Linked DNA regions of Homo sapiens. The protein of the gene in region 2 purifies or fractionates together with the protein of the main gene of each other region. This does not show direct contact. Each region holds a gene or a part of one and is shown on either strand. Other genes may lie near its edges. The genes, in order: TAOK2, ZDHHC1 and DDI2.

Region 1 (10,169 bases), about 37 Mb from region 2:
CCTCAAAAAAAAAAAAAGAAAATACAAGAAAAGAAGCGTGAAGACAGAGGCTCCCGCGTCACCTCTCATTTTCTTCCATTTTCTCTTCTGTGCCTTTCACAGGATCTTCTGCAGGACAACTGGTCCTTATCACAGCCAGGGTGACCACAGAAAGGACTGCAGGAACCTGCCTATATTTTAGTGCTGTTCCAGGAATCCTACCCTCCAGCCAGCCACCCATATCCTGCTCAGAGGAGGGGGCTGGAAATGCCACCCTGAGCCCTAGAATGGGTGAGGAATGTGTTAGTGTCTGGAGCCATGAAGGCCTTGTGCTGACCAAGCTGCTCACCTCGGTAAGAGCCTCAGATGGGTCGCCAGGGTTTTGTAGACTGCCTGCTGACTACTGTATCTTGAAGGTCCCTGGAAACAATTCTACCTTGTAGAAAAAGCACAGGTTTTATAACCCTGCCTTGGGGGCTGTGTGACGTAGAACAAGTGTCTAAACATCTCTGAGTGTCAGCATCCTCATCTGTAAAACAGAAAACATGACCCTATCTCTTAATTCCATCAAATAAGGATTAAATGAGAATGACCGTGAAGTGCCCAGCACATTGCCTGGGACATAGAGATTTGATAAGTGACAGCTATTGTTGTTTACTATTGTCTTTAAAACATTCTCTCTACTTCAAAGGAGTTCAGAAGCTATAATAAGAGGCAAATGGGCTAATTGCTATTAGAGAGATGTGAGCAAAGTGTTATGCAAACACAGAGAAAGGAGCCATTAACCCTAACTTGAACATTTATGGAGAGTGCATCACAGAGAAGGTGGCATTTACCAGAGAGCATTGTGCACAGTGGTTTATAATGCACAAAGTGCTCTCAGGGTTCATTAATTCATTTGATCTTAAAATAGCCTTTTGAGGTAGGTGTTATTATCCCATTTTACAGATGAGGAAACAGGTTTAGAGAAAGGGAGTGAATTGCTGCAGGCCACACAACTGGTTAAGTGGCAGAGCCAGGGTTGCAACCCACACCTTCTGTCAAGTCAGAATGATCCTTGAAGAATGAGGAAGATTTGGACAGGGACTGCAGTAGAGGAGGTTCAGGAGAGGGGGAGGTACACTCCAGGCAAAGGCACCAGCATGCGCACAGGCCTAGAGATTGAAAAGTGTTCAGCCAGGTGTCACATCTGTAATCCCAGCACTTTGGAAGGCCGAAGCAAGGAGAATGCCTGAGGCCAGGAGTTCCAGACCAGCCTGGAGAACATAGCAAGACCTCGTTTCTTTTTCGCTTTTTTTTTTTTTTTTTTTTTTGAGACGGAGTCTCACTCTGTTACCCAGGCTGGGGTGCAGTGGCACAATCTCGGCTCACTGCAAGCTCCACCTCACAGGTTCATGCCATTCTCCTGCCTCAGGCTCCCGAGTAGCTGGGACTACAGGCGCCTGCCACCATGCCCGGCTAATTTTTGTATTTTTAGTAGAGACAGGGTTTCACCTTGTTAGCCAGGATGATCTCAATCTCCTGACCTCGTGATCCACCCACCTCAGCCTCCCAAAGTGCTGGGATTACAGGTGTGAGCCACTGCGCCTGGCGACCCCATTTCTTAAAAAAAACATTTTTTTTTTTAATTAGCAGGGTGTGGTGGTACACACCTATAGTCCCAGCTACTCAGGAGGCTGAGGTGGGAGGATCCTTTGATCCCAGGAGTTTGAGGCTGCAGTGAGCCATGATTGTGCCACTGCACTCCAGCCTGGTTGCCAGAGTGAGACCCTGTCTCAAGAAGGAAAAAAAAAGAAAGTGTTCAGCCTTTGGGAGCACTCCATGTTGAGAGGCTTAGGAAGGAGAAAAGGCAAGAGAGACCACAGGGATTTGATGGAGAGGCTCTGTGAATGCAGGATAGAGGGCTATGACCTGATGCTGAAGGCCGTGGGGGCCACTGAGGAGTTTTAAGGAGGAGAGAGATGTGCTTCCCTGGTGCTGGGTGGAGAATGGCTGAGTGGAGGAGGGCCATCAGTCAGGAGGCTGCTGCACACTCCACTCTCACATTTGAAAATACCCCATGAGGCACGGTGGCTCACGCCTGTAATCCCAGCACTTTGGGAGGCCAAGGCCGGTGGATCACTTGAGGTCAGGACCAGCCTGGCCAACATGGTGAAACCCCATCTCTACTAAAAATTTAAAAATTAGCTGGATGTTGTGGCGGGCGTCTGTGATCCCAGCTACTCAGGAGGCTGAGGCAGGAGAATCTCTGGAACCTGGGAGGCAGAGGTTGTAGTGAGCTGAGATCATGCCACTGCACTCCAGCCTGGGCAACAGAGTGAGACTCCGTCTCAAATAAAGAAAAAAAGAAAAGACCCCATGAGGAGCACAACCTGGGACTTGGAATCAGAGATCTGGTTTCCAGATCTAGCACTGCTTGCACTTTTTTTTTTTTTTTTTTTGAGATGGAGTCTTGCTCTATCGCCCAGGCGGGAGTGCAGTGGCGCAATCTCAGCTTACTGCAAGCTCCGCCTCCCAGGTTCACGCCATTCTCCTGCCTCAGCCTCCCAAGTAGCTGGGACTACAGGCGCCCGCCACCATGCCCGGCTAAGTTTTTGTATTTTTAGTAGAGATGGGGTTTCACTGTGTTAGCCAGGATGGTCTCAATCTCCTGACCTCGTGATCCACCCACCTCGGCCTCTCAAAGTGCTGGGATTACAGGTGTGAGCCACCGCACCCAGCCACTTATACATCTTTAAACTGTGGATCATAATGAAGTTTCCTATCTCATGGAGTTATGATGGGGTTTCAGGTTGATAATTGGGCAAGAAAGTAGTTTTTAAACCATCAAGACAAATGTTCGAGCCTGGGCAACATGGTGAAACCCCATCTCTACAAAAAAACACACAAAAAATTAGCTGGGCGTGGTGGCACACACCTGTGGTCCCAGCTACTCAGGAGGCTGAGGTGGGAAGATCGCTGGAGCCCAGGAGGCGGAGGTTGCAGTGAGCCGAGATTGCACTACTGCACTCCAGCCTGAGTTACAGAGTGAGACCCTGCCTCAAAAAGAAAAAAAAAAAAAAGGGCCAGGCGCGGTGTTTCACGCCTGTAATCCCAGCACTTTGGGAGGCCGAGGTGGGCGGATCATGAGGTCAGGAGATCAAGACCATCCTGGCTAACACGGTGAAACCCCGTCTCTACTAAAAATACAAAAAATGAGCCAGGCGTGGTGGCGGGCACCTGTAGTCCCAGCTACTTGGGAGGCTGAGGCAGGAGAATGGCGTGAACCCAGGAGGCGGAGCTTGCAGTGAGCTGAGATCGCGCCACTGCACTCTAGCCTGGGCGACAGAGCAAGACTCCATCTCAAAAAAAAAAAAAAAAGACAAATGTCAGCTTATATGAAAATAACATTTTCCCTTCAGTTGCTCCCTAGATGTGGAGAGCCCTCTCCCTCATGGAGGCTCCTTCTATAGCCCTTGGACTGGATTAACATGTCCTCCTCCTCCTCTCCCTGTACCCCTCCCTAGGAGGAGCTGGCTCTGTGTGGCTCCAGGCTGCTGGTCTTGGGCTCCTTCCTGCTTCTCTTCTGTGGCCTTCTCTGCTGTGTCACTGCTATGTGCTTCCACCCGCGCCGGGAGTCCCACTGGTCTAGAACCCGGCTCTGAGGGCACTGGCCTAGTTCCCGACTTGTTTCTCAGGTGAGGTTCTTTGCTCCAGTCCTGCGGGAGCAGGGAATGGGGTGGGGGTGGGGGTTGTAACCGGGGTAGAGCAGATCCTTGGACTTTTCCTCAAAGACTGCTGCTTCTGAGTCCCCGAGAACCTCTTCAACCACAGCTCTCCCTTAGGGACTGGGAACAATTTGACACCGTCAGCATTCAATATTTTTCTAATTACTTTAACTTTTTTATTATAAAATAGTTAACACTTATGTAGAAAAGTCCAATAGTATAAAAGGACAGCTTGGCAAATTATTATAAAGTGGATACTTATAAATACCACTGAGTAGAATATTACCAGCTGTCCAGAAACCCCCCATGGTCCCTTCCTTCCTGACAATGCCCTCTCTCTCCCTAGAAATTACTGTCCTGCTTTATAATGTATTGCCATGTATGTATTCCTAAATAATATAGTTTGGTTTTACTTATTTTTGAAACTATGTAGACAGAATCATACACATTCTTTTGTGGCTGACTTCTTTCAAGCAACATTGTGATTTTAAGACTCATAACTAGTTCACATCCAAGCATTTGGGTAACAATGGTGAGTTAAGAGGGTTCACATTTGATGATTTGTCCTGAATATGAACCATGTTTGTCTTGCTTTTGTCCTGAAATTCCAATACCCAGTTTTATGATGGAAATTTTGTAAAATTCAACTTGAACCGCTCAGAAGAGTCTAACTGATGATACTCATTTACTGGGGACATAGTATGTGCCCAAGAACTTGACATGCACCTTCTGTCTTCCATTTAGTCATCGTTACCTTTAGAAAAAGCTGATTCCGTTAACAAGATCTTTGGAGGGAATCAGCTTCACAAACGTAGCAGTGGGTGGGGGTCATGTTGGTTAACCAGTTCACACATCAGCTCACTAAAGGAAAAAATATTTCTGCAAAAAATCTTCACTTGTCAGAGGGGGGTGCATGAAATTTGAGAGCCATGTGTTATGCATCCAGCTCTTGAACTGGTCTCAGCTTCAGCTGGCTGCAGTGCCCTAGGAAGTTACTATGGGAAAAGTGGAAATAGTTGAGGCCCAGGGAACTGATCAGGCCAGAGGAAGTGGAAGCTCAAGATCAACTGTGCTTATTTTGCTGATGGCTGGGCCTAAATGCCCCAACCACCTACTTGGGACAGGAAATGACAGGACCCTCTCAACCTTGGACTGGGAAAGGAGGGCTTCCTGGCCCCTGACAGACCCTGGGGTCCTGAGGCTACCTTAGTTGGGATTAAATGCCCGTATTGGTCTCTAGCTGTCACTCCCTCTGCTCCTTCCTCAATTTCTGCACACATCTCAGAGCTTCCTCTAGCAGCTCTTCGACCTGTTTTGTTGTTTTATTTTCTTTCTCCCCAGGTGTGAATCAACTTCTTGGGCCTTGGCTCTGAGTTGGAAAAGGTTTTAGAAAAAGTGAAGAGCTGGAATGTGGGGGAAAATAAAAAGCTTTTTTGCCCAGTGGCGTGTATGGTGTTTATTGGGGGTTGGATTGAGGTGGGGATTTTAGGGTAGGCAGGCTTAGAAGTTTTGGGGGACTCTTTCCTGTTGACTCTCTAGTTTGGACACAGGTTGGCATAGGGCATAGGTTACTTGAGCTCTCCCCATGGTTGACTTGGCTTTGGTAAACACCTGTCTTGTTTTCTTCTACGAAATAAAATGGATAATTACAGTTAGTTGGGCGGGTGGGGTGTCAGGTCATGGAAATGCTGTGACATAAATGCACTGTGACCTTGGCAAGTCTTGCAACCTGCAGCGCCTCAATTTCCGTAAGAGATTTGACCGATTGAGTTTTCCCAGCGTCGACGCGCAAAGATTCCTCGCACTTGGAGGCCCTTTTCCAGGTTAGATGGTTGCTAACCTCGGAGCAGTCTATTTTCCCGCCTTTTCCGCGCCCAGCAGCAGCTTCCTTTGCCCCTCCCAACTTCCACCCTGCGCGCAGTCGCAGATCGCCGCTGCTGTCCGTCCACCCGCGCCCCCTCAAAGCTTCCCCTAGCAACAAGCTCGGGCTCAGAGCGAAGGCGGGGCGAGCGCATGCGCTGCAGCTCTGTCCACCGCCAGTCGTGGGACAGAGTGCCGGGCTCCTCCCCTTGCAAGTCTAGCTCTTCTCCCCGCCTCCTCCGGCCTGGGGTCCGCGTGGCGGGGCGGGCGCGCACTCGGGCTTGGCGGCTGCCGGTCTCCCAGGCCGCGGCAGTGAGGAGAGAGGGCGGGGCTGAGTCCTCTGCGCCCCCGCCCCCTTTAGCCCGGCGTCCCTACCGCGCCTGCGCGCTCCCGCCCGGTCTCCATCTTGGAATTGGGAGGAAGAGGGAGAGGGAGACCGGGACGAGACCGGGGCTGTGGTGCGGAGAGAGGCTGAGACGGAGAAGAGGAGAGGCAGAGAGGGCGCGGGGACCGTCAGCAGCACCTTAGCTACAATCGTTCAGCTATTCTCGGAAGAGAGAAGGGAGAGGGAGGAGGCCGGGGCGGGAGTGGGGGCTGTCACCCTCGGACCCCGGCGTGAGAGGGGCCGTGCGGCCGGACGTCCTCGGGGTGGGCCCCCAGTCGGTGGCCGAAGACCTACAGCTCAGGCCCCTGGGTCCCAAATTTCCAGGCTTTGCCCCTCCTCCTTTCTCAGATACCCGGGTAACAGTCCTCATAGTCCAGATATCCGGGACTCGGGTCCCAACCTCTCTAAACCTGGGTCTCTGTTTCATAGAATTTCAAATATCAGGTTCAGGCCCCTGCGTGCACCAGTATCCGGGGTTCATTCCCCGGGCGTTCAAATATCGGATTCAGTCTCCATCCCGTTCAGATATTCGGGGTTCAGACCCCACAATCAGAAATCCGGAATTCGGCAGCTGTCGCCCTCGACGAGGGGGAGGACTGGACCGCGAGGTCAGATTAGGTTGTCACCCCCTCCCCTCCAGGGGAGGCTTCCCGGGCCCGCCCCTCAGGAAGGGCGAAAGCCGAGGAAGAGGTGGCAAGGGGAAAGGTCTCCTTGCCCCTCTCCCTGCTTGGCAGAGCCGCTGGAGGACCCCAGGCGGAAGCGGAGGCGCTGGGGCACCATAGTGACCCCTACCAGGTGAGACACGGGGTGCAGGGGCGCGGGTCCCTGTGTCTAGTTCTGAGAAGAAAGGGTGCGCCTTTCTGAGAAGCTGGACTTGGGTAGGCCCTCTCAGGATGGGGAAGCCCAGCTGAGCGAGTGGTCAGCCTCTGGCTAGCCTTGCCTTCTGTTGCCACCCCCTTCCCCTTCCTCTTCCCTTCATTGTGTCTGGTTGGTGGGGGACCTCAGGTGACAGGGTCTCTGATGTCACCGGCGTTCACACCCTAGGGTGCTTCAGCTAATCAGATGGATTTGCACTTCAGTCTTCTCTCCTTCACTTTGCCCCTCACAGCCACCTCTCCTCCCTGATATGTCCCGTTCTCCTGGCTATTCTGTGGTTTTGATTCCCATGCCTCTGATTCCCATGGTGGGTCTGCTTATCTGCTTTTCAGGCCTGGTCTGGTTGGATTTCTTGTCCTTGCAAGGAAGTGTGTGTATATGTGTTTGTGTGTATGCGTGTGTGTGTGTGCTTGGAGGTGCCTGGCAATGTTTTCCCCCAGCTGCAGTTACCTTCCAACCTCTTGCTGTGATGGTGTCAATAATCTCATCCATTTGTCAAACGATCTGTCTTTTACAAAGTGCTTTGACAGCCATTCTCTCATGTGACATCCCCGCATTCACCCTGTGGGGGCCTCTTTTATTGGCATCTTCCCATTTTACAGTTGAGAACGTTGAGGCCGAGAGAGGTTGCCCAAGGTCACACAGTGGCAGAACCAGAATTTGAACTCAAGTCCTCAATCACATCTTTCCCTGATGCATGCCTGGTTCTTGCCATCTCTTTTCCTCTGAGTTTGGGCTCGGCCAGGGGTCCCTAGGAGTCCAGGCTGGGGTGAGGTTTAAGAATGGGGATGAGATGAGCTTCCTTTCCAGGAGGGCTCTACTCAGAAGCTTTTCCTGATGGGAGCCTCTGGCTTTTGCCTCTGCCTCATGGAGTTTTCTATCCACTGTGACCTTCATCTTTACCCCAATCCCAGGGTTTGGCCTGGATTCCTGAGAGGGCTCTCTCCTGACAAATGGTAGCACTAGTGGCATCTTTTAACTGTTCAAGCCAAGCTGTTGGGGTAGAATGATCCCCCAAAGGATTAAAGCTTTGTGGGGACCTTGGAGGCAGGGAAGGAAAAATCCATATGCTGAGTGTCTGCATGGTGTTCCTAAGTATGAGATCTCATTAAAATCTTAACAACAGCTCCATGCTGTAATCCATTTCACTGAAGAGAAGACCAAGAACTGGAAGGAACTTATTTAAAGCCCTGTTGCTGTACATTGCAGACGGGATGTACTGGTAGCATAGCTTAGGAACAGATAGATACGGGTTTCCTCATCTGTAGAATGGAGATAACATTGTTCGTTTTGGAAGGTGGTTATGATTTAGCACAGACCTTGGTTATTGTTCAAGTGTTTGTTGTTATTATGGGGAAGGGGACCTGCATGATGTTTTGCCAGTGGGTGGCACCCCTCCGTGTGGCCTAGGTTAGCATTCTGGGGCCTTGTGTTGGTAAAGAGGTCAGGAAGATTCCTTTGGCAAGTTGAGAGCACCTGCCTTTGTGTGTGGGTGTGTGGTGCTGGTGAGGGGTGCTTGGCACTGTTGCTGGCAGAAGGGAGAAAAGGGCCGGCTTTGAGCAACCTGCGAGCTGCTGAGGGCTGAGCAGAGAGCAATCACTCAGTCTCCCAGGCTATTCTGAGCCCTCTGCACCCTGGGGGCCCACTGGAGAGTCAGGCTCCCTCCTTGCCCTCCAGCTTCCAGTTGGGCTGAGACAAAATTAACAACACAACAGGAAACAATGCATGACAGAATAAATTACATGCTAAAATTGTTAGGTGCTTTTGAGTAGCTAGAACTCTGCCCCAGGAGTCCAGCTCTGCTGAAGGCTCCTTTGTGCCTAAATTCTGACAAGTGCTTAGGCTGGAGCCTGTCTTGGAATCTCCTTGAGGGTTTTGGTTCTGGTATCCTGCAGGAACTTTCTCCGGGTGTTTGGTTGGGTGCCCTAGGTGCTCTTCCCAATGGCTGGAGTGGTCAGGACAGGCTTCCTGCAAGAGGGGAGCTGAGCTTGGGGTGACAGCTGAGAGAGTAATGGATACAGGCCTAACCGGGGAGCCGAAGGTCCTGTTCTCTGACCTTGGAGAAGTCCTTTTTCTTCTCTGTGCCTCAGTGACCTCACCTAGGAAATGGTGATCATGATTCTGCCCTGCCTGTTTCGAAGGGCTGCTCTGAAATCATAGTGATGGAGGACCAGCTTTGGACAAGGCACTTAACCTTGCTGAGCCTGTTTCTTTATCTGTAAGATAGGGGAAATCATAGTACTTGCTTCATAAGGTTGTAGTGAGGACTGAATAGAGATAATGCACGTAAGGTACTCAGTAAATGTTATTTGTACCCTGCAAATGTCCTGTACCTGTGTGTGATGCTTATGCAGTTGGACAGGACAAGTAAGGTGGCCCAGAGCACAGAGAGGCCCTCATAGCCAGATGCCATTTATATCCCTATTCTTCCCATTCTAGATCTCCCCCTGACTTTTTTGAGAGTGACTTTGCGGGCTCCTCTGGGCCAGTACCCACTTCTAACAATGGACGGATTTCCACCGCCTCCGGCCTGGCCATTTCCTGTTCTCTTCCAGGGTGTGAGAGGTTGAGGGAGGAGGGGGCCTCAGCGCCAAGGGGAACAGAAAGGTGCCTGGAAACAGTTGGGGTATAGGACTTATGGGACAGGACACTTGGGGCTCTGGAGTGCTGGCTGGGAAGCAGAATGTTTTATCCTTGAGGGGAGATACAGGGGCTATAGGGAAATGAGAACTTGTTGAGCACTGAAGGGGGTGGTGAGGATACTTAGCTTCCCAGAATCTTCCTAGCAGTTTTAGGGACTCCAGGGACCCAGCCCGCGTGATCTGGTTGCCAGGGCAACTTCATTTTTTGGAGCTTTGATGTTGTTCCTAATCTCCCCCTCCCCTTCCTCAGCAGTGCCTCCTCCTCATCAGGGAATGAGGGGAGGAGATGGCAGAAACTTGATGGGTCCCTTCCTCTCCCTGAAGGCTCAATCCTTGATCTCTAAGGGTCCCATTTCCATTCCTCAGGCCAGGCCCCACTCTCAGGGCCCCCAGGGGCCACCATGCCAGCTGGGGGCCGGGCCGGGAGCCTGAAGGACCCAGATGTGGCTGAGCTCTTCTTCAAGGATGACCCAGAAAAGCTCTTCTCTGACCTCCGGGAAATTGGCCATGGCAGCTTTGGAGCCGTATACTTTGTGAGTTGGGTCTTGGGAGGGTGTAATAGGGATGGGGACTCTTCCTATCCCTGTGGACTTCCCAACAGCCCTTGCACACTACTCCATCACACTGGTCTTTCCTGCCTTCTCTTGCTGGGCCAGCAAGTCTTCCCATGCCCGGCTCTCAATGGGGCCTTCAACACCTTCTGGTCTGGTCCTCTAGGCC
Region 2 (9,818 bases):
GTAGAGAGAGCATTAGCCCAAGAAGCTGGGCTGGAGCCCAGGGCCTGTGTCTGCAGCCAAGTTTCAGCACAGGGGGAGTAGGCTGCGACAGCTACTCTGCTGGGGAAACTGGGGTCCTAGCACAATAGAGATGGGCAGTGGGGAGAGGGTGGGAGTGGGCTGCTGTCTCAAAGCCCAAAGCAAACCCTGGCCCTAGACTGGCCAGGACAAGGTAGGAGGGCCCAGGATTTATTCAGGACACAGTGCTGCTGCCTGTAACTCAAAGTGCTGTCTTCACAGCCATCACAGTTAAACCCAATAAGACATGTTCTCATCTGGTAACAATATCAGGCTGGGGCCAGAGTGATGAGAACACATGCTGATTCTGTTAGGATTAGTCACCTCCTTCCTGAGGTCCAAATGCAAGTGTCAGACACCCCCGCTATCCTTTGCTCAGGGAAACGGGGAATGGGGTGCCCAGAAGGAGGATCTGCCCTCTCCCCCACGGTGGACAGAAAATCCCTTTAGGACTGGGGGAGTCTGAAGCTCTGCCCCATGCTGCCTGAGGGTTCTCAGCTGGGGAGGGGCCAGCACATGTGAGGAAGGGAAGGATTCCTCTTTAGTTCCCTTCAGCAGCAGAAATGACCACGTTTCTCTAAGTAAATCTGGGCCTGGTGTACAGTTTTGTACAGAAAGGTGGGCTAACGCCCTTGGACTCAGAGCCAGACCACCAGATGGCATCAACCACCCCCTCCACCCGCCACCCTCTAGCCGGACAGCTGGCCCAGGGTCCAGGGATGAATGCCAGGCAAGAAGGGGTAGGCTACAGGAGGAAGACCCCCATCCCCAGGATATGGGCCCAAGATGGGACAACAGCTCAGGCAGGCAGCGCCACACCTGGGAGACAGGCCAGCTCTGCGCTCATGGTGGGAAGGCCAGGAGCTGGGACTAAAACCCTGGTAGCTGAACTCTCCTTTCAGGAGCCCCTGCCCATGAGACAGGGAACCTAAGCAGAAAGGGTGCCGCAGACCCCGACTCAGTGCATCTTCCTGGATCACCTTTCTCACTTCTCAATCCACAGAATGAGGCTTGATCTTCAGAGCCAACTGCAAGGGTTGCCTCATCCAGGAAGCTTTCCCTGATGCCCTGAGTCAGGGGGCCCTTATGCTAAGTCATTGTTGGGCAAATTACTTTGCCATTTGGGACGCTTTGCAATCCTCATGTCTGCCCTCATTAGGACAACTTTCCCCAAAGGCAGCAAATGTGCTGGGTGGGGTTTATTCATCTCTGTCCCCTATGTCCCTTCCCCCAGGCACCCAAAATTGTACCTTGTACATAGTAGATCCTCAGTAAATGTTTGCTGACTTGAAAACAGCTGAAATAAAAGGAAACGTGGGCACAGTAAATGGTGTGGAATCCTGGTCCACCCTAAGCCATCTGGCCTGCTTTCTCCTGCCTTCCATCCATCCAGCCCTGCCCTCTTTCTGCAGGGTCGTGAACCCATGCCTCCCGCAGCCCATCTCCCTCTGCCGGCTGGCTACCACCCTGACTGCCAGACACTCACTCCTAGCCACCCTGCCCTTCAGCCCACCTGAGGCTCAGAGCCTCCTGCAGGCCAAGCCAAGCATTATTTGAAGTGACCTCTGAGTTGTCCCATCTCAAAGCTAAATGGAGGACTTAGTTTTCCCCCAGGGATTCAACTGGTGGTATTTGGGTTTTGGGTTTAGGGTTTTTTTTTTTCTTCTGAGACAGGATCTTGCTCTGTTGCCCAGGCTGGAGTGCAGTGGCACCATCACAGCTCACTGTAACCTTGACCTCCTGGGCTCAAGTGATCCTCCCACCTCAGCCTCCAGAGTAGCTGGAAGTACAGGCACGCACCACCACACCTGGCTACTTTATTTTATTTTTTTGTAAAGACAGGGTCCCACTATGTTGCCCAGGGTGGTCTCCAACTCCTGGACTCCAGACTCAAGAGATCCGCCAGCCTTGGCCTCCCAAAGTGCTGGGATTAGAGGCGTGAGCCACCGTGCCCGGCCTTGCTTTGTTTTGTTTTGTTTTTTGTTTTTGAAACAGGGTCTTGCGCTGTCACCCAGGCTGGAGTGCCGTGGCGCAATGATAGCTCACTGAAGCTTCAATCTCCTGGGCTCAAGTGATCCTCCTGCCTCAGCCTCCTGAGTAGCTAGAAATACAGCGGCGTGTTGCCATGCCTAGCTATTTATTTTTTATTTTTGCAGAGACAGTCCCACTATGTTGCCCAGGCTGGTCTCCAACTCCTGGGCTCAAGCGATCTTCCCACTTTATCCTCCCAAAGCACTGAGATTACATGCATGACCCACTATCCCAGCCCTCACTTTCTTTTGCATGTCCCCAAAGATAGCAAATCTTTGTCCTTGTATTGTGGAATTGTCAAAGGTCATCAGGTCAAGCCCTGTGAATATGATTGGGTTGGATGGTTCTGCTCTGGGGCCAATCTCTGTGGCTTGCACATCAGCTCCCCAGTGACACCATCACCAGGGCAATTACTTTGAAAGGAATCCATTAATTTGGATTCCTAAATTCTGGCTCTCCTTTTGCCATCCCCAAACCTGAACAACCCTACACCTTGCAGGAGTTTCCAAAGAGCAAAACAGACGCATGCAGCTGATCTGGCCCCACTGCCTGGCAGTGGCCACAGGCACCCCCAGAGCTGCTGTATCCCTGACTCCTGAGGCAGGAGGAGTCACCATCTGCAGCCAGGCGCCCGCCACTTACAGCCTTGGGGATGGCTCTGACTCCAAATCAGGATACCCCCTGATACTCCAAATCAGGATACCCGCTGATACTCCAAATCAGGATACCCCCTGATACTCCAAATCAGGATACCCCCTGATACTCCAAATCAGGATACTCCCTGATACTCCAAATCGGATACCCCCTGATACTCCAAATCAGGATACCCCCGATACTCCAAATCAGGCCCAGGAAGGGAGCACTTGTCTGAGGCTGTGGATGTGGGGATGGTGCTGCCAGGCAGACCTCCCTCAGCAGAGGCAGCATTCTGGTATAGACGCCCAGGCTGGCCCAGAGGCATGCCCAGGCCAGCCCACTCTTCACTGACGACATTTTCTCCTGCAGAGTTGGTGGCTACAAATTCCTTCGGCCCAAAAGATTTTGATTAAAAGGGCTGGGAGGTCGGAGAGAATCCAAGATGGGGCTCCCAGGCCCATGGATGGGACCAAGCACTGTCACCAGACCCCGGGACTTCTCTGGCTGTTGCTCCCCTCTCAGCACTTCTCTAGGAGACCAGATTGAAAGACATGTGGCTCTGTTCTCCAACGACGTAGCCAGCTGGCACCCTCTGACCTTGGCCAGTCAGCACTTATCGGAGCCCAGCCTGCGCACTTAGGATGTAAACACAGATGAGACCGGGTGCCTGCCCTCAGGGGCTTCTCTTCTGGGACCTGGACGGACACGAACAGATACCAGGGCAGTGGGTGAATGGGCATTTTGGCAGCCCATGCAAGGGCCAGCCATCCAATGTGGCAGAACACAGGGTGGACAGGTGGCGGGGGTGGGGGGTGGGGGAAGGAGGGAATGGAGAGCAGGACCCAGTGAGAGATGGGACTGAAGGAGTTGCGGGGCTCAGATCACAGGGGTCTAGGAGGCCAGGTGAGGACACATGGGCACTGCTGGAAGAGCCACATGGAGGCAAAGCAGGCTGAAGGCATGAGAGTGACCCAATGGCTCAGGGTGCTTTGGAAAACTTTCTAGCCAGTGGGGAGGAGGGCATGGGGGAAGCGGCACCACAGTGGCCCAGCAGGGAGCCCAGCAGCCCTGTGCTTTGGGAGAAACTTGTCAGAAGGTGGCGGTGAAGCCCACAAGCTCCTTGCTGCCCACCTGGCTACCTCCAGCTGCATCTTTGCAAGGCTCAGAGGTACACAGCCTTGGGAAAACATTCTTCATGTACCTTCTACTGCCACAGAACAAACCATAGAGAGTCAGGCTGGCCGGGATAAAGGGAAGACAGGAAGGAGGGTGTCCCGTGGCCTGGGTAAGCCAAGGACCCACCTGGCTTCTGAGGCAGGCAGGAGGGGCTGTGGAGGCCCCTCCCTTATCCCCCACAAGGTGAAAGCCATTGGCAGGATGACAGTAATCTGTTCACATTAACATTCACTTGCTAAAAGCCTTAGATGGTGTTTTCAATATAAGGTTAGGCTACCTTAATTAATTATTATTATTATTATTATTATTATTATTGTTATTATTTAGACTGAGTCTCACTCTGTCGCTCAGGCTGGAGTACAGTGGTATGAGCTCAGCTCACTGCAACCTCCACCTCCCAGGTTCAAGCGATTCTCCTGCCTCAGCCTCCCAAGTAGCCGGGATTACAGGCATGCACCACCACGTCCAGCTAATTTTTATGTTTTTAGTAGAGACGGGGTTTCACCATGTTGGCCAGGATGGTCTCAAGAACTCCTGACCTCAGATGACCCACTCAGCTCGGCCTCCCAAAGTGCTAGGATTACAGGCATGAGCCACCACGCCCTGCCTGCGTACCTTAATTTATATGCTTAAGTCAAATGAAGGAAATCTTAACATTTTAAGTTCTCATTACGAACTACATTATAGTTACATGAGTGACCCACTTTCCTCCTGCCCACCTCTGCTCCCAACAAAAAAAAAACCATTTAGGAATGTTGTTCTGAAATTCATGCCTAGCACTCTCAAAGGAACCACACCAAGGTGAAAAGTACCAGCCCTGGAGAGACTGCGGGCATCCCTGGATTCCTGCAAGCTACCTGAGGGCTTCAGAATCAAGTTAATTACTAAAGAGGGTTTGCCAGGAGAGGACAAGGAACTGGGAGGGCAGGGTGATGGGGTCAGAGGAGAAAGCGACGGGGTTGAAGCAGGTGCTTGGAGGGCCCTGCACTGCCAATGGGGAGACGCAGGTGGGATCAAAGGAAGAGGGCTGAGCCTGGAGTAGAGCCCTTTTCTGGTTCCCGAGCTGCCACTCACAGACTGAGGAACATTGGGGCAAATTTCACAGATCCACTTCTTTGGATCTCTTCTGTACTCATCTTTCAACAAAGTTCAGTGAAGCAATTTGGCAATATCCAAGTCTGGCGAAACTTTAGAACATATATGCCCTTTGACCCAGACATTCCATTTCTAGGTATTTATCTTATACATATACTCACAAAGATTTACTGCAGCATTGTTTGCAATAATAAAGGACAAAAGACAATACAAATAAACTATGGCACATCCATACAATAAAATGCTAGGCAGCATCAAAAGCAAGGGATAAAAAAAGAAAAAAAAGGGATGAAGTAATCTTTGATACACAATTAAGTGAAAAAGCAAGATGAAGAACACTTGTAGATGGCGCTACCAAGTGAATGAAAACAAAGGGGGCCGGGCGCGGTGGCTCACGCCTGTAATCCCCACACTTTGGGAGGTCGAGGAGGGCAGATCACTTGAGGTCAGGAGTTCGTGACCAGCCTGGTCAACCTGGTGAAACCCCATCTCTACTAAAAGTACAAAAATTAGCTGGGCGTGGTGGTGCGGGCCTGTAGACCCAGCTACTCGGGAGGCTGAGGCAGGAGAATTGCTTGAACCCGGGAGGCAGAGGTTGCAGTGAGCCGAGATCGTGCCACTGCGCTCCAGCCTGGGCAACAGGCGAGACTCTGTCTCAAAAAAAAAAACAAAAAAAGGCTGCGGGGATGGATAGATATCTACATTCCTATACGCACAGATTTTCTCCAGAATGAAATGCAAGAAACCAAACACAGGAGCATCCCCTAGGAATGAGACCTAGTGGTCCAAGAGCTGTAAGACAGAAATTGCATTTCCTGGTACTCCTTCAAACTGTTCAAATATATATATATTTTTATCATGAGCATGTACTGCTTTTGAAAAAAAAAAAGTATGTCTAATAATAAATGATTAGGGGATGTCACCTCCTGCCTTCCTGGCCCCACTGAGCTGCCTTGTGGATGAAACACACTCGTGTGATCTAGAGCCCTGTTATCATGCCAGACAAAGAATTCCTGCCTAACAAGGGGGCTTGGTTTTAGTGAAATGTTTTCTCACTCTTGAAAGCAATTCTAAGACGCTTGGCTGCAGAGCTATGAGGAAAAGCCACAGAACTTCCTATGAACTGTTAGGGATCTTGTCAAAGCTGGAATCACACAACCAGACAGCACAACAGAGGAGCTGCTAGGCAGGACCTGCTTCATCCTTGGCCACAGCCAACTCAGCTACCTGAGACTCCCAGAACCCGAAGGGAAAGTGCACTCCACAGGAAACTTTTGTTCCCATGCATCTTGTCCTTTTGCTAGAGGACTTGTGGTTTCCATGTGAGAGATTTTCTTCTCTTTTCTTTCACTTTTTTTTTTTTAAGACGGAGTTTCACTCTTGTTGCTCAGGCTGGAGTGCAGTGGTGCGATCTTGGCTCACTGCAGCCTCTGCCTCCTGGGTTCAAGTGATTCTCCTGCCTCAGCCTCCCGAGTAGCTGGGATTACAGGTGCCCGCCGCCACGCCCGGCTACTTTTTGAATTTTTTTAATAGAGACGGGGTTTCACCATGTTGGCCAGGCTGGTCTCGAACTCCTGACCTCAGGTGATCCACCCGCCTCGGCCTCCTAGCCACTGCACCCAGCCTATTTTTTTTTTTTTTAAGAGACAGGATCCTGCTTTGTTGCCTAAGCTGGAGTGCAGTGGTGCAATCATCGTTCACTGTAACCTCAAACTCATGGGTTTATGCAAGCCTCCCACCTTGGCCTCCCAAAGCGCTGGGATTACAGGTGTAAACAACCGTGCCCAGTCGGGAGATTTTCTATCTATGAGTATTCCTAAATGAACTTTCCGTTTCCCCCAGGATCTGCTTTTGAAATAATTTTCACTGAGATTTAACAGATGCCCAGTTGAACTACCTAAAGGGAAGCTAGAAAGAAAACACTTCACGGTACACAGATTTTTACACTGCAAAAAGTCATTTACAAAAGATTCTTTAGGGACAAGTACTTTGTTTATTAAAATTCCCCACAGGTGCCAGAGAAGTCTCTGGCCTTAAAATTCTGAGAAGCAGCTCTAGCTCAACTAACGGATGCGCATCACACAACTACCAAAAATTAAACTGGAACTTCAAGCTGTTCCCAAAGACCTCTCAAGTCACTGATCTCAGATGTGGCTGGGCCCTTGCTTTCTCTCTCATAAACAACAGGTGGAAGTCTGATGCTGGTTGGACCCAGTGGCTCATGCCTGTAATCCCAGAACTTTGGGAAGCCGAGGCGGGCAGATCACCTGAGGTCAGGAATTCGAGACCAGCCTGGCCAACATGGTGAAACCCGTCTCTACTAAAAATACAAAAATTAGCCAGGCATGGACGTGGGTGCCTGTAATCCCAGCTACTCTGGAGGCTGAGGCAGAAGAATCTCTTGAACCCAGGAGGTGGAGTTTGCAGTGAGCCGGGATCATGCCATTGCACTCCAGACTGGGCAACAGAGCGAGACTCCGTCTCAAAAAAAAAAAAAAAAAAAAAAAGTCTGATGCTATGGCAAGAAAAGCTTGAAACTCCAATTATTCCTGAGTTGACATGGTTTGCAAACATTTTCTGTGCCATTCTCCTCCTGAAGCAACCACTGCAAATTGTTTGGGATACAAATGAAGCCAAGGAAAGGGGACAAGTAGGAGGGAGTAACACAGAATAGAAACAAGGCCAGTGAAGAGAGGCCAAGGTTATTGACTTTAACCAGGAAATCAACTCATGACTGCAGGAGCCAGCCTTGGGGAACACCCACCACACAAGAGTCATTAAAAACAACGTTGTGACAGAACAAAGAAAGAAAAACAAAAACAAAACAAAACAATCTGGCTAATTAAGCACCACTGTTGCTTTTACTGCATCTCATGGTGATTATCTGTTTACAAACCCGTCTCCCACAGTGAACCACCAGTTCCACAAAAGCAGAGACCACCCCTCACCCGTGTCTGAACCCAGCTCTCTTTCAGTAAAGGAAGTCAAGCCACTTTTTTACCATCTCTGCTGTCATTACCCCAATCCAAACCTCCAGCATCGCTCTCCTACAGTGTTTGCATGATAATAACCAACACCAGCATTTAGAATGCACTTATTCTGTGCCAGGCACTGTTTCAGTGGAATTCACTCATTCAATCCTCATAGAGCTCTAAGGAAGGTCCTATCATTTCCAACTGTTCTTGTAGATCCCTGTAGTCACTGATTTCAGATGTGACTGGCCTCTCACTTCCTCATAAAAAACATACAGAACACCCACTCCCATCATGAGGACACTGAGGCTCAGAGACACTAAATGAGTTATTTTAGGAGGCACAGCTAGATTGGCAGAACTAGGATGGCCCTCAACTGACTTCCCGGTATGTCTGTCACAACCATGCTGCTCAGCAGCCAGAGTGAAGTGAGCTTTTCAAACGTGAAACTCATCCAAACTCTTCTTTGGGAGGCCAAGGTGGCTGGATCACCTGAGGTCAGGAGTTCAAGACCAGCCTGGCCAACATGTTGAAACCCCGTTTCTACTAAAAATACAAAAATTAGCTGGGTGTGGTGGCAGGCGCCTGTAATCCCAGACTTGGGGGGCTGAGGCAGGAGAATCGCTTGAACCCGGGAGGTGGAGGTTGCAGTGAGCCGAGATTGTGCCATTGCAGTCCAGCCTGGGTGACAGAGCGAGACTCCATCTGGAAAATAAAAATAAAAATAAACAAAAAATAAAAAACTCTTCTGCCGCTTGCAGTGGCTCACACCTGTAATCCCAGCACTTTGGGAGGCTGAGGCAAGAGGATCCCTTGAGACCAGGAGCTCGAGACCAGCCTGGGCAAAATAGTAAGACCTCATCTCTACCAAAACCTTAAAAAATTAGCTGAGCGTGGTGGCGGGTATCTGTAGTCTCAGCTACTTGGGAGGCTGAGGCGGGAGGATCGCTTGAGCCCGGGAGCCGGAGCCTGCGGTGACCCATGTTCACACCACAGCACTCCAGCCTGGGTGACAAAGGGAGACCTTGTCTCAAAAAAATAAAAAATTGGCTGGGAACGGTGGCTCACACCTGTAATCCCAACGCTTTCGGAGGCCGAGGCGGGTGGATCACCTGAGGTCAGGAGTTCGAGAACAGCCTGGCCAACATGGTGAAACCCCGTCCCTACTAAAAATATAAAACTTAGCCGGGCGTGGCGGCGGGCGCCTGTAATCCCAGCTACTCCAGAGGCTGAGGCAGCAGAATGGCTTGAACCCGGGAGGCGGAGGTTGCAATGACCCGAGTCGTGCCACTGCGCTCCATCCAGCCTGGGTGACAAGAGCGAAACTCCGTCTCAAAGAAAAAACTAAAACTCTTCCCATGGTTTCCTTTTAAAACAGACCCTCCATGACCAACCCCTCCATTTCAATACCAGAGAGCCTAACCCGACCTGAAATCACTTTAGTCATGTATGACATCCGCTTCCCAGCCCCCTTCCTTAATGCTCTGGGTTCTGGAGACAGACCACGTCTGTTGGGAGTCCTCTGTGCCCACGCCTGGCACAGAGCCTGGCAAAGAGTAAGCGCTCAAGGAAGATCTGTGAACTTGATGCATGCTAAAAGGAAGCCCCGCGCTCTGCCGGGGCCCTGGAACTCAGGCCACCGGCTCCAGGCGGAAGCGAGCCCAAAGCCGGCCAGGCGGCAGCATCCGCTACCCCGTGGCTCAAGCCAGGCTCCGAGGTGAGAAACCGGGCGGGGACTCCTCACCTGCGCGCCGCGGAGGCCGTGCCAGATGGGCCCTGCCAAAGTCAGCCAGAGGTTCGGGCCCCACGCCTGGCCTTCCACCCTCCCCGGGGCAGCCGCGCCTCAGACCC
Region 3 (9,818 bases), on a different chromosome or scaffold from region 2:
TTTAGTAGAGAAGGGGTTTCACCATGTTAGCCAGGATGGTCTCGATCTCCTGACCTCGTGGTCTGCCCGCCTCGGCCTTCCAAAGTGCTGTGAGCCACCGCACCCGGCCCGATAGTGGCTTTTTCAATTGTTTTTTCCTCTAGCTGTTATATTACCCTGGTTATGATCACCGGCTGGTAGGGAAAATAAGAAATTAAAATGTAAATTGATTTTGTTGTTAGGGCTTGGGAAAAGACAGAGGTTGAGGTTGTTTCCATTCCTGCACTTTTTGTGATGGCTGAAACAAGAAATTTAAGTCAAAGGGATACCTGACACCCCCTTTAATTGACTTAAATTTCTTGTTACAGCCATCATAAAAGACGATTTATTGTGTGGTCAGCCAGACATTGCCCTCTGCCAGTTGGTAAAGTTAGGAATACCTTAGTAATTGAACATAGGCTAACTCCAAATTATTTCTTGTTCATTATGTCAATGTTTCGGCATTTACTTCCTTCCCAAGCCAAATTAGCATATAGAAACTTGGGCTCCAACTGGTGTTAAGCCTGTATTAGATAGCCATAAACAGCTCCTGTTTTTCCAGTCTGTTCTGTTGGCTCCATTGTAACCTGACAACACAGTATCTATTTTAAGGTGTCTGGTGGTCGGTTGTCTTTCACTTGCTTGCTTGCCCATCAGGCAGGAACAGGATCCACCCTAGACACTTGAGTCATTTCCTTTCATCAAATCATAATAGTAAACATCACTATAGTTTTTACCCATAAATATATCATGTTTACTTACTTGAGTGTCCCCCCCCATTACCTCCCAGGGTTCTCTCATATTACTCATCTTCCCTTCCTTTCCTAGACTGTTTAACTCCTCCTCTTGTTTACATTCTCCATTCCCATTCCTTCACCTCTCATTTCTGATTCCATTTCTTCAAGGAAATATATATATTTTTATGTTCTGGCTATTTTTTCCTGCCACTATGTGTCCACACCACTGGTGTCCAAACTTTCATTCATGTATCCCTATCAGTAAAATGTTTCAGATTATGCTTCTGTTATGTATATAATACATTATATACATGAACTGATACGTTGTATACATTATATATGGCCACATGTGCATATAATACACATAACGTGCATTATATGCATATATAATATGTTATCTGTAAAGTAACATTGTACACACACAAAATGGAGCTTAAGGAAGGACGAACTAAAATAAATGGAAATGAAAATTCTAATATTTTCAGTTTCTTCCTCCACCGTTAAAGAATTGTCTTGCATGGCTGCCCTACATTGGTGATCAATGGTTTAGAATTCAGTCTTTCACCTGAGTGTCAATTGCACATAAGCATATAGTTGGAAAAGGTGTTAATTTTTAACAGCTCTAGTCTGATGATAGTAGTTACAATGCAGTGATAACAAATTTAGAACAAGCCATCTCTGCTTGTACATGTGATTAAAGCTGGGCATGTTCTGTCTCTTAATAGAAGTGTGGGCTTGGAAGCCAGTCATGGCTCTGTTTGATGCTTTGATGCAGACTTGCCTGGGTGAACTTCAAACAGTTATCAGAACTTAGCTTCACTTTAAATTAATGTCTTCATATTTTTGAGACATGATAATTTACCTCTGTAGGTGGCATATGGAAAAAGTAGGCACAACATACAAGGACCCTCAAATGAAAGGCAAATAATAGCAGTAATTGTATGATCTTGGAAATGCACACAGCATGATTTGTGGTTTGTAAACCACTATTTTATCTTCTGTGTGTTTGTTTTTTTGAGACAGGGTCTTGCTCTGTCACCTAGGCAGTAGTGCGCTCACAGGTCACTGTAGCCTCAACCTCCTGGGCTCAAGTGATCCTTCCACCTCAGCCTCCTAAGTAGCTGGGACTACAGGTGTATGCTACGACATATGACTAATTTTTTTGTTTTCTTTGGAGATGGGGGTTTCACTGTGTTGGCCACGCTGGTCTCAAACTCCTGACCTCGGATGATCTGCCTGCCTTGGCCTCCCAGAGTGCTGGGATTACAGGCGTGAGCCACCGCATCCGGCCCCAAATTGATAATTTTAAAGGCTACATAATATACCATCATATAGATGTGTTGTAATTTAGCAATTTCCCTTTTGTTGAGCATAATATTGGGGAAAATTGGAAGCAGTTGTAAGTAACATGCCATGAACATCCATATACTTAAGACTGTAGCCTCCATTTCTGTTTTCTCAGGATGAATTCTTAGATATGCAGTTGCCAGATCAAAAGCATAAAGTCTTTGAAAGGTTTTTAGTAAATTTAGATTATACAAGTCAAATTGGCTATTACATGGGGTAGTATATGTAGATAACTTGGTAGATATTGGGTATTTGATTAATGGTAATACTATTATGAAGCCATTCAGATGTAATTCCAAATGTTTTGTGGCCGGTTTATGGTCCTTATTTTATCTTTATTCTTTATATTTTAGAGATGGGATCTCGCTCTCGCCCAGGCTGGAATGCAGTGTTGCAATCACAGCTCACTGTATCCTCAACATGTTGGGGTCAAGGGATCCTCCCAAGTAGCTGCGACTTTTTTTTTTTTTTTTTGAGACGAGGTCTTGCCAGTGCTAGGCTTGAACTCCTAACCTCAAGCAGTTCTCCTGCCTCTGCCTCCCAGAGTGTTGGGATTACATGTGTGAGCCACTGCACCTGGCCTACTAGTTTATGTTCTGTAATGCTAGAAATTTATTGTTAAGCTTTTTGTTAATAGAAGGCTCTCATTCAGAGACCAGAAAACACCTGACCTCATGCTTAAAAGTTCTGAAGTTTTATTAATTAGTCTATTGTTAAATGTTGATTAAGATTATAATTCAGTCTCTGGGGTGCCTCCTCTGGAGTAAGTACCAGCAGTTGTGCCAGTTTTGCTGATTAAGACTCATAGCTGTATACATTTTCTTGTTGTATGTTCTTATAACTGGCAAAACTTGAATTTTGGGCTTTGTAGCTGTTGAGTTGGGTAACATGAATGGTGGAAGGATCAAGAATGCCGGCAGCGGATCCCCTTTTGTTTTTATTGGTAGAGATTTGAAGCCATGTCTAATAGATACTGAATGTTTGGTTGGAAGATCACATGGATTTATTTTGGGACTTTTGCTGCAAAATAATTGTCTTTCTTGGACTCTTAAGCCTATTTAAACAAAAAGAAATCAGTTCTTTGTGGCAATTACAATTTTAGCTAAGCTTTAGTTGATCTCATTTATGTCCTTAGATTAAAATGGAGCACAGCTGCTGCTTCGTCAGTGTGAGGAACGTGTGCGCCTCACCCAGGTTCTTCAGTCTAGTGTTTCCAGGAAATTGGCGCTGAAGCAACATTTCATATTTCATAGACATGCTCAATGTGGTGGTTATCTAGATTTTACATTTTTATTGTTAGATCATGCTGCCTTCCTTTAAAAAATGCTATTGTCTGCTGAGGAAATATTGTGGCAACTAAGCAGTGATGGAGTGAAGTATGGCATCTGTGAAGTGGGAGTCAGAGCGGGCAGTTGGTGGTGTTTCTTCATGTCCAGGGCATGGGGATGCGTTGAGCAGTGGACAGTATTTTGATCCTCTTAGTGGATAGAGTCTCTTAGTGGCAATGGATGGCTTAGTAGTACTTGTTAAAATCACCCAGCTAATTCACCAGGCCACTTTAGGGTTATGTTCGGGAAAGCTGTATATGATACTCCTGGAGTAATGGGCTTTGAAATTAGACAGTTCCAATTGCAGTTTTCTTCTTCTTTTTTTTTTTTTTTTTTTTTTAAGAGACAAGATCTTATTCTGTTGCCCAGGCTGGAGTGCAGTGGTACAATCATAACTCACTGCAACCTCGAACTCCTGGGCTCAGGTGATCCTCCAGCTTCAGTCTCCCAAATAGTTGAGACTACAGGCATATGCTACCATGCCTGGCTTATTATTATTATTATTATTATTATTTTAGAGATGGGGTCTTGCTGTATTGCCCAGGCTGGCTTTGCATTCCTGGCCTCAAATGATCTTCCTACCTCATCCTCCCAAAGTTTTGGAATTAAGGCGTGAGCCATGGCACCCAGCCTGCATAGGATCATTTTGATTCTCCTGAGTTTGCTTCCTCCTTGTAAATAAATAAATTTTCTCTTATAAATAGTTAGTGGCCGGGCGCAGTGACTCACGTCTGTAATCCCAGCACTTTAGGAGGCCAAGGCGGGCAGATCACAAGGTTAGGAGATCGAGACCATCCTGGCTAACATGGTGAAACCCCGTCTCTACAAAAAATACAAAAAAAAAATTAGCCGCTTGTGGGGGCAGGTGCCTGTAGTCCCAGCTACTCAGGAGGCTGAAGCAGGAGAACCTGGGAGGCGGAGCTTACAGTGAGCCGAGATCCCGCCACTGCACCCCAGCCTGGGCGAGAGCGAGACTCCGTCTCAAAATAAATAAATAAATAAATACCGTTAAAATGTGCCTCTGCTCCCAGGAGACTGTTCATGTATCTCTAAATATACTGATAGTTGAATTTCTGAAACTGGAAAATTAAAGAGTAGGTTGTTGACAGTGGCTTCACAGTGTTGATGCTATGCTGTAAGAGCCTGCCTACCTGCCATTTCTCTTGACATACCTCTTTTTTCTTGTTGCACACCTCAACCTGTGACGCTCATCACTTCTGGTTTATGTGTTTTTTCCAAGCAGTCTCACAAGTTATAATATGACTCTCAGTTGTTTTGCTGAAATTCTGTGTTGATGGTGATGTACTTTTACTGTGAAATTTGTGTTTAAATGAGGGTGTGTGAATGGGATGATGGGAGTGACAGTTGCAGTCTGTTGAAATGTGGTTCTTTTTTTGTTTGTTTTTGTTTTTTAAGAGACAGGGTCTTACTCTGTTGCCCCAGGCTGGAGTGCAGTGGTGCAACCGCAGCTCACTACAGCCTGGACCTCCTGGGCTCAAGCAATCCTCCTGCCTCAGACTCCTAAGTAGCTGAGACTACAGTCACATGCTACCATGGCTGGCTATTTAAAATTTTTTTTTTTTAGATATGCGGTCTCACTATGTTGCCCAGGCTGGTCTCAAACTCCAGGGCTTAACCCATTTGTGCTTAGCCTTCCAATGGAACGCTAAGCTTGTGGGAGTTATATCCTACTACTCAAGGTCATTGCCAAGGTATGATTTTTTCACAAAAGAAAATTTGCAACCTCTGGCCTAAATGGGTTAAGTGATGCTCACACCTCAGCCTCCCCAAGTGCTAGGATTATAGGCATGAGCCATCATACCAGATCTGAAATGTGTTTTAACTCAGCGAGTTGAGCATTAAGGACTTAATAGTATTTTTTTTCAAGTCATGCATAAAACTTGTATAATTGGGCCTACAAATTTGCTCATATTCAGAAGAATTTGATTTTGGTAGGAACTCATTTTCCTGTTCTGTTCCTCATGTCTATAAATTCTGAGAGCAGATATGGCATAATCACTTTTTTTCCAGTTTAAATGCTGTGTTTTCAGTTTTTATTTCAGGTAACCTTACTATGAAAGCTGTAAGGAAACATAGAATGATAATGTTAGCAGAGAGAACTGGAAGGGACAGCTGTAATGATGATCTAGCCCACCTGCTTGCTTGACACATGGGAAGGGTGAGGTCTGGACCTGCTGAGTGTCATGCCCCTCGCAGGGAGTTACTGGCAAGGATAGAACTCATGTTCCTCAGTTCGCATGTGGCCTGGTGAAAAATCATTAGGAGGAAAACCTTTCAAAGCCTGAGTTTGTTCTGAATGCCTTTCTGGAGTATGTAATAATGCAGGGCAGATTTTATGTTTTTTCATGATAAAATTATAGTGTACCTTTGTTCTTTCTATCTGCAACACATTATTTCATCTATTTGTGCTGTCAGGTTTTTTTCAGTTTGATTACACATCATAAAATATTTTTATTAGTAGTACATTCCTAATTCTTTTTTCCACTTGTATTTAGTTGTTATTTTCTTAGTTTCACTTTATTTTCCAGTCTCCCCCCTCCCACCACCCCACCAAGATGGAATCTTGCTTGCCCAGGCTAGGGTGCAGTGGTGCGATCTCAGCCCTGCAACCTTTGCCTCCCGGGTTTAAGCAATTCTCCTGCCACAGCCTCTGGAGTAGCTGGGATTACAGGCACGTGCCACGACACTGGGCTAATTTTTGTATTTTTAGTAGAGACGGAGTTTCACCATGTTGGCCAGGCTGGTCTCGAACCCCTGACCTCGTGATCCACCCGCCTTGGCCTCCCAAAGTGCTGGAATTACAGGCGTGAGCCAGCGTGCCCGGCCCAGAGTGATAAAACTTTGGGGGTGGTAGAAGAGAAGGAAGATTGCAGTGCAGGAAGGATGATATTTGGGACCCTTTTGCCAGTGTTCAAGATTATTTCAAAGTGCACACTTTATTTAATAGTACTGTAGTTAGTTAGCATACCCAGAATAAATCATTCCCTTTTCCTCCCTGCTAAAAATTAAATCTAAAATTATATCCATTTCCATAAATTCATTCATTCTTTAGTTCAACAAATATTTGAGCATCAGTTATATAACAGGCCCTGTTCTAAGCATTTATGATCTCGTGAATGAAACAAAGTCTTTGTCCTCAAGTAGTTTACATTTAATGGGGCAGAAGGACAATAAGTAAATATATATTGTGTTAGTTGAGAGTACATTTTAAATAACATAGTAGGGAAGAACTCTAAAGAGTAATGTTTGATCAGAGACGTAAAAGGAAAAAAATGAGTGGAAAAAGAACATTCCTCAGGTAGAGAAAACAAGAGAAACAGCCCTGAAGGGGAAGTTGATCCCTGTTGTTTGAGGAACAGCAGTCATAGTGAAAGGCGAAGTCAGGAGAGCCAGGGACCACATTGTTTGGTCCTGCTAGGTGACGGGAAGGACTGTGGGTTTTGTTCTGGATGTGGTGGGAATCCACTGGAGGGTTTGAAAGGAGGGTGACATCTGATTCAGGGGAAAACTGGTCCTTCTGCCTTGCGCTGTGTTACTTCTCAGTGCTTTATACTGTTGTATATCTTTTCTTGTTGTAGATCGTCTATGCGGAAAGACCTCTCACAGACAACCACAGATCATTGGCTTCTTATGGCTTGAAAGATGGGGACGTTGTGATTTTACGACAGAAGGAGAATGCAGACCCTCGACCTCCAGTGCAGTTCCCAAGTAAGACATCTGGTGGTTGAGCATCCCCCAGCAGAACCATCAGCAGGTAGCAGAGCATAGCACCTCAGAGTTTTGGATTCGCTTTGGATTCAGACTACAGAATACAGATCCTGACTCTGCCTTTTCCCTGCCGTGTAACCTTGAACAAGTATTTTAATGTCTCTAAATTGGTTTCCTCTTCTATAAGTTAGGTGCCATAATTAACCCCAACTCCTAAAGCTGACGTGAGGCTAATGCATGTAAAATCTTAGCACACAGCAAGCCCTCAATAAATGTTAGCTTCTGTTATCAGTGATAATTATACAATAATCTTTATCCTTGGGAAGGACTTGAAAGAATACATAAGCCTATGATTTTGCTACTTTGTGTCTGTCCTTCAGTGGCCAGCCTTTCTGGAGCATTTTATAGCCAGCCAGGCACTTGGAGCTGCATTTCACATGATCTCATAACTTGGTTGTGGGGGGATTTACATACTAATTTGCATAATAATTTATAATTATGAAGCTCAGATTTTAAATGGTGTCTTTAAAGTTACATAGCTATTAAGTGAGGGCACAGGAATTAAAATTTGATGCTTTTTCCATTATGCTGAACTTGATAAACATTAAGCAGCTTGACCACCAAGTTGTGGTTCTTTCCTACCAGCTGTGTTAATCACATACAAAGAAACGTTTATCTATCTTTGATGCTGCTTTTATAATAGATGTTTATAGTCTGAACTCTGTGCATTGGGATTTAGTAGGTTCTATGTCACTGAAATAATATGCAGAATTGTGTGGATGTGAATGTGTGTGTGCACTGGATAGAGAGAGGGTCATAGCTTTGTTCAGATACTTGAAGTGGCTCATGATCCACAAAATGATTATAAGGTCTTAATGTGAAACAGCTTGGTGAAATGTGTGGTTTTTTTCCATTCGCTGCCATATTCAGATAGATTTTCTTAAATAGTGTTTAGCCTGTAGGTCACCAGTTTTAAAGTTTATGGTGACAGATGCTGGCAGAGTCTGGGTGATGACAGACTGACTGCAGTTTTAACCACAGTGTTTCCATTCAGCCTGAAACTGGAACTTACTGAGACCATCAAGGACCGGCTCCACCAGATCTGGAAGACATTAGTCCCTTGGGGCCACAGTTAAACTTTAGAAAGAAGTTAAAACTTCTTTCTGAAGAAGTTAAACGTATTTAAACAACTATGACAATCAGTAAAAACCACATCTTCCTTTGGTTAATTTGATGAGATTATTAATTCCGGAATTTACTTCTTTTTTTTTTTCCTCTGCATTGTTGTTTATGGACAAGAGAGCCTGTAACAGGTTGGGGCAGGAGTGATCTGGTCTATTAAGTAAACATGTTTTTGAGAATTATTCTGAAGTGAATGGACTCTCAAGATAATGTATAACAGGAGTGGAGATAAAATTTCTTGACCTGCAAAGAGGGCCCACCCATATATGTTTTTCTGGCTGGTATAGATTAACTACCTCACAGAGATCATCCTCTTCACTTCACCATTTCCTTGGTTGGGAGTTGAAGAAAGTGGCTAGTTGAACCCCTGCTAAAGGGTAGAAATGTTACATCATGAGTTTAAGCATTCTCTTTTTCTATCTGAGGTCCAAAAAGGCTTCAGGATAGTCCCAGACTTGAGACAAGTTTGTTTGTTTTTTGATTTTTTAGTTTATTTAAAATCCTTAATAGTGCAAGGATTGTGCTATAATTCTGATCACTGTGGAATTGCTTAGTGTACTGTCATTTATAACATTAAGCACAGTTATCCTTAAGAAAAGTATTCAGTTGTTCAGACAAGTTTGACCATCAACTATATTTTTTGGAGTTGAAGGAATGTCGATTGACTCAGGCCTAGCCCCTCATTCTGGCTCTCCTTGTTTACTTTTCTCTTTTTCATTTTTCTTTTTTAAATAACAGTTTTATTGAGATAGAATTCATGCATTTAAATGATTTTTTTTTACTATATTCATGAGTTGTGTAACCATCACCACAATCCATTTTAGCGTATTTTCATTACCTTAAAAAGAAATCCTATACCCATTTATAGTCATTTCCCATTTCCCCCTAGTCTCCGCAGCCTAGACAACTACAAGTCTACTTTCTGTCTCTATGTATTTACCTATTTGGAACATTTCATATAAATGGGGTCATACAATATGTGAGTCCGTTGTGTAAGGATTAAAATTCCCTTTTATCTTCCTTTCATTTTAGTAAGGTCAGTTCCACCTGGCATATAGAACCTGGGAGTTGTAGCTTCTAAACTGTGGTAGCTTTTGGTGTATTCAGCACTGAGAACCTATGCAAGTCCCTTTTCTTCTTTCTTTTCTATAAAATGATGACACTGTTTAGCTCCCCAAGGGCATGAGAAGAGTTAGCAGAGATGCACAGATTAAAGTATAAATTCAGAGAACTATTAAGAACTTCCCTGAGCCAATACGTTTAGCACTGACTTGCAGAATTTAGCATCTAATATTTATGCTGCTCACTTGACATATATAATATCCTTTGATCCGGCCGGGCACAGTGGCTCACACTTATAATCCCAGCACTTTGGGAGGCTGAGGTGGGTGGATCACCTGAGGTCAGGATTTCGAGACCAGCCTGGCCAACATGGTGAAATCCCATCTCTACTAAAAATACAAAAAATTAGCTGGGC

What was found.
Region 1: the proteins of ZDHHC1 (region 2) and TAOK2 purify together in Homo sapiens (affinity purification with mass spectrometry; 2 studies listed by BioGRID and IntAct, with this or other methods). This does not show direct contact.
Region 3: the proteins of ZDHHC1 (region 2) and DDI2 purify together in Homo sapiens (affinity purification with mass spectrometry; 2 studies listed by BioGRID and IntAct, with this or other methods). This does not show direct contact.

Annotation. Positions count from the first base shown.
Region 1 is NC_000016.10:29,967,923-29,978,091, forward strand, and holds the start of TAOK2 (serine/threonine-protein kinase TAO2), read left to right. Parts: upstream 1-5,945; 5' UTR 5,946-6,074; coding exon of another isoform or gene 6,075-6,713; 5' UTR 6,714-6,726; intron 6,727-9,815; 5' UTR 9,816-9,850; coding exon 9,851-9,982; intron 9,983-10,166; coding exon 10,167-10,169. Other genes in the region: TMEM219 (insulin-like growth factor-binding protein 3 receptor isoform 1 precursor), read left to right, coding at 103-332, 3,486-3,623; uncharacterized protein LOC124903762, read left to right, coding at 5,700-5,858, 6,075-6,713. UniProt on the Homo sapiens protein: Serine/threonine-protein kinase involved in different processes such as membrane blebbing and apoptotic bodies formation DNA damage response and MAPK14/p38 MAPK stress-activated MAPK cascade.
Region 2 is NC_000016.10:67,406,460-67,416,277, forward strand, and holds part of ZDHHC1 (palmitoyltransferase ZDHHC1), read right to left. Parts: 5' UTR 9,712-9,818; intron 9,685-9,711; exon of another isoform or gene 9,444-9,684; intron 3,420-9,443; exon of another isoform or gene 1,355-3,419; 5' UTR 1,317-1,354; coding exon 1,308-1,316; intron 1-1,307. UniProt on the Homo sapiens protein: Palmitoyltransferase that catalyzes the addition of palmitate onto various protein substrates, such as NCDN and NLRP3. Has a palmitoyltransferase activity toward NCDN and regulates NCDN association with endosome membranes through this palmitoylation.
Region 3 is NC_000001.11:15,619,640-15,629,457, forward strand, and holds part of DDI2 (protein DDI1 homolog 2), read left to right. Parts: intron 1-7,029; coding exon 7,030-7,159; intron 7,160-9,818. UniProt on the Homo sapiens protein: Aspartic protease that mediates the cleavage of NFE2L1/NRF1 at 'Leu-104', thereby promoting release of NFE2L1/NRF1 from the endoplasmic reticulum membrane.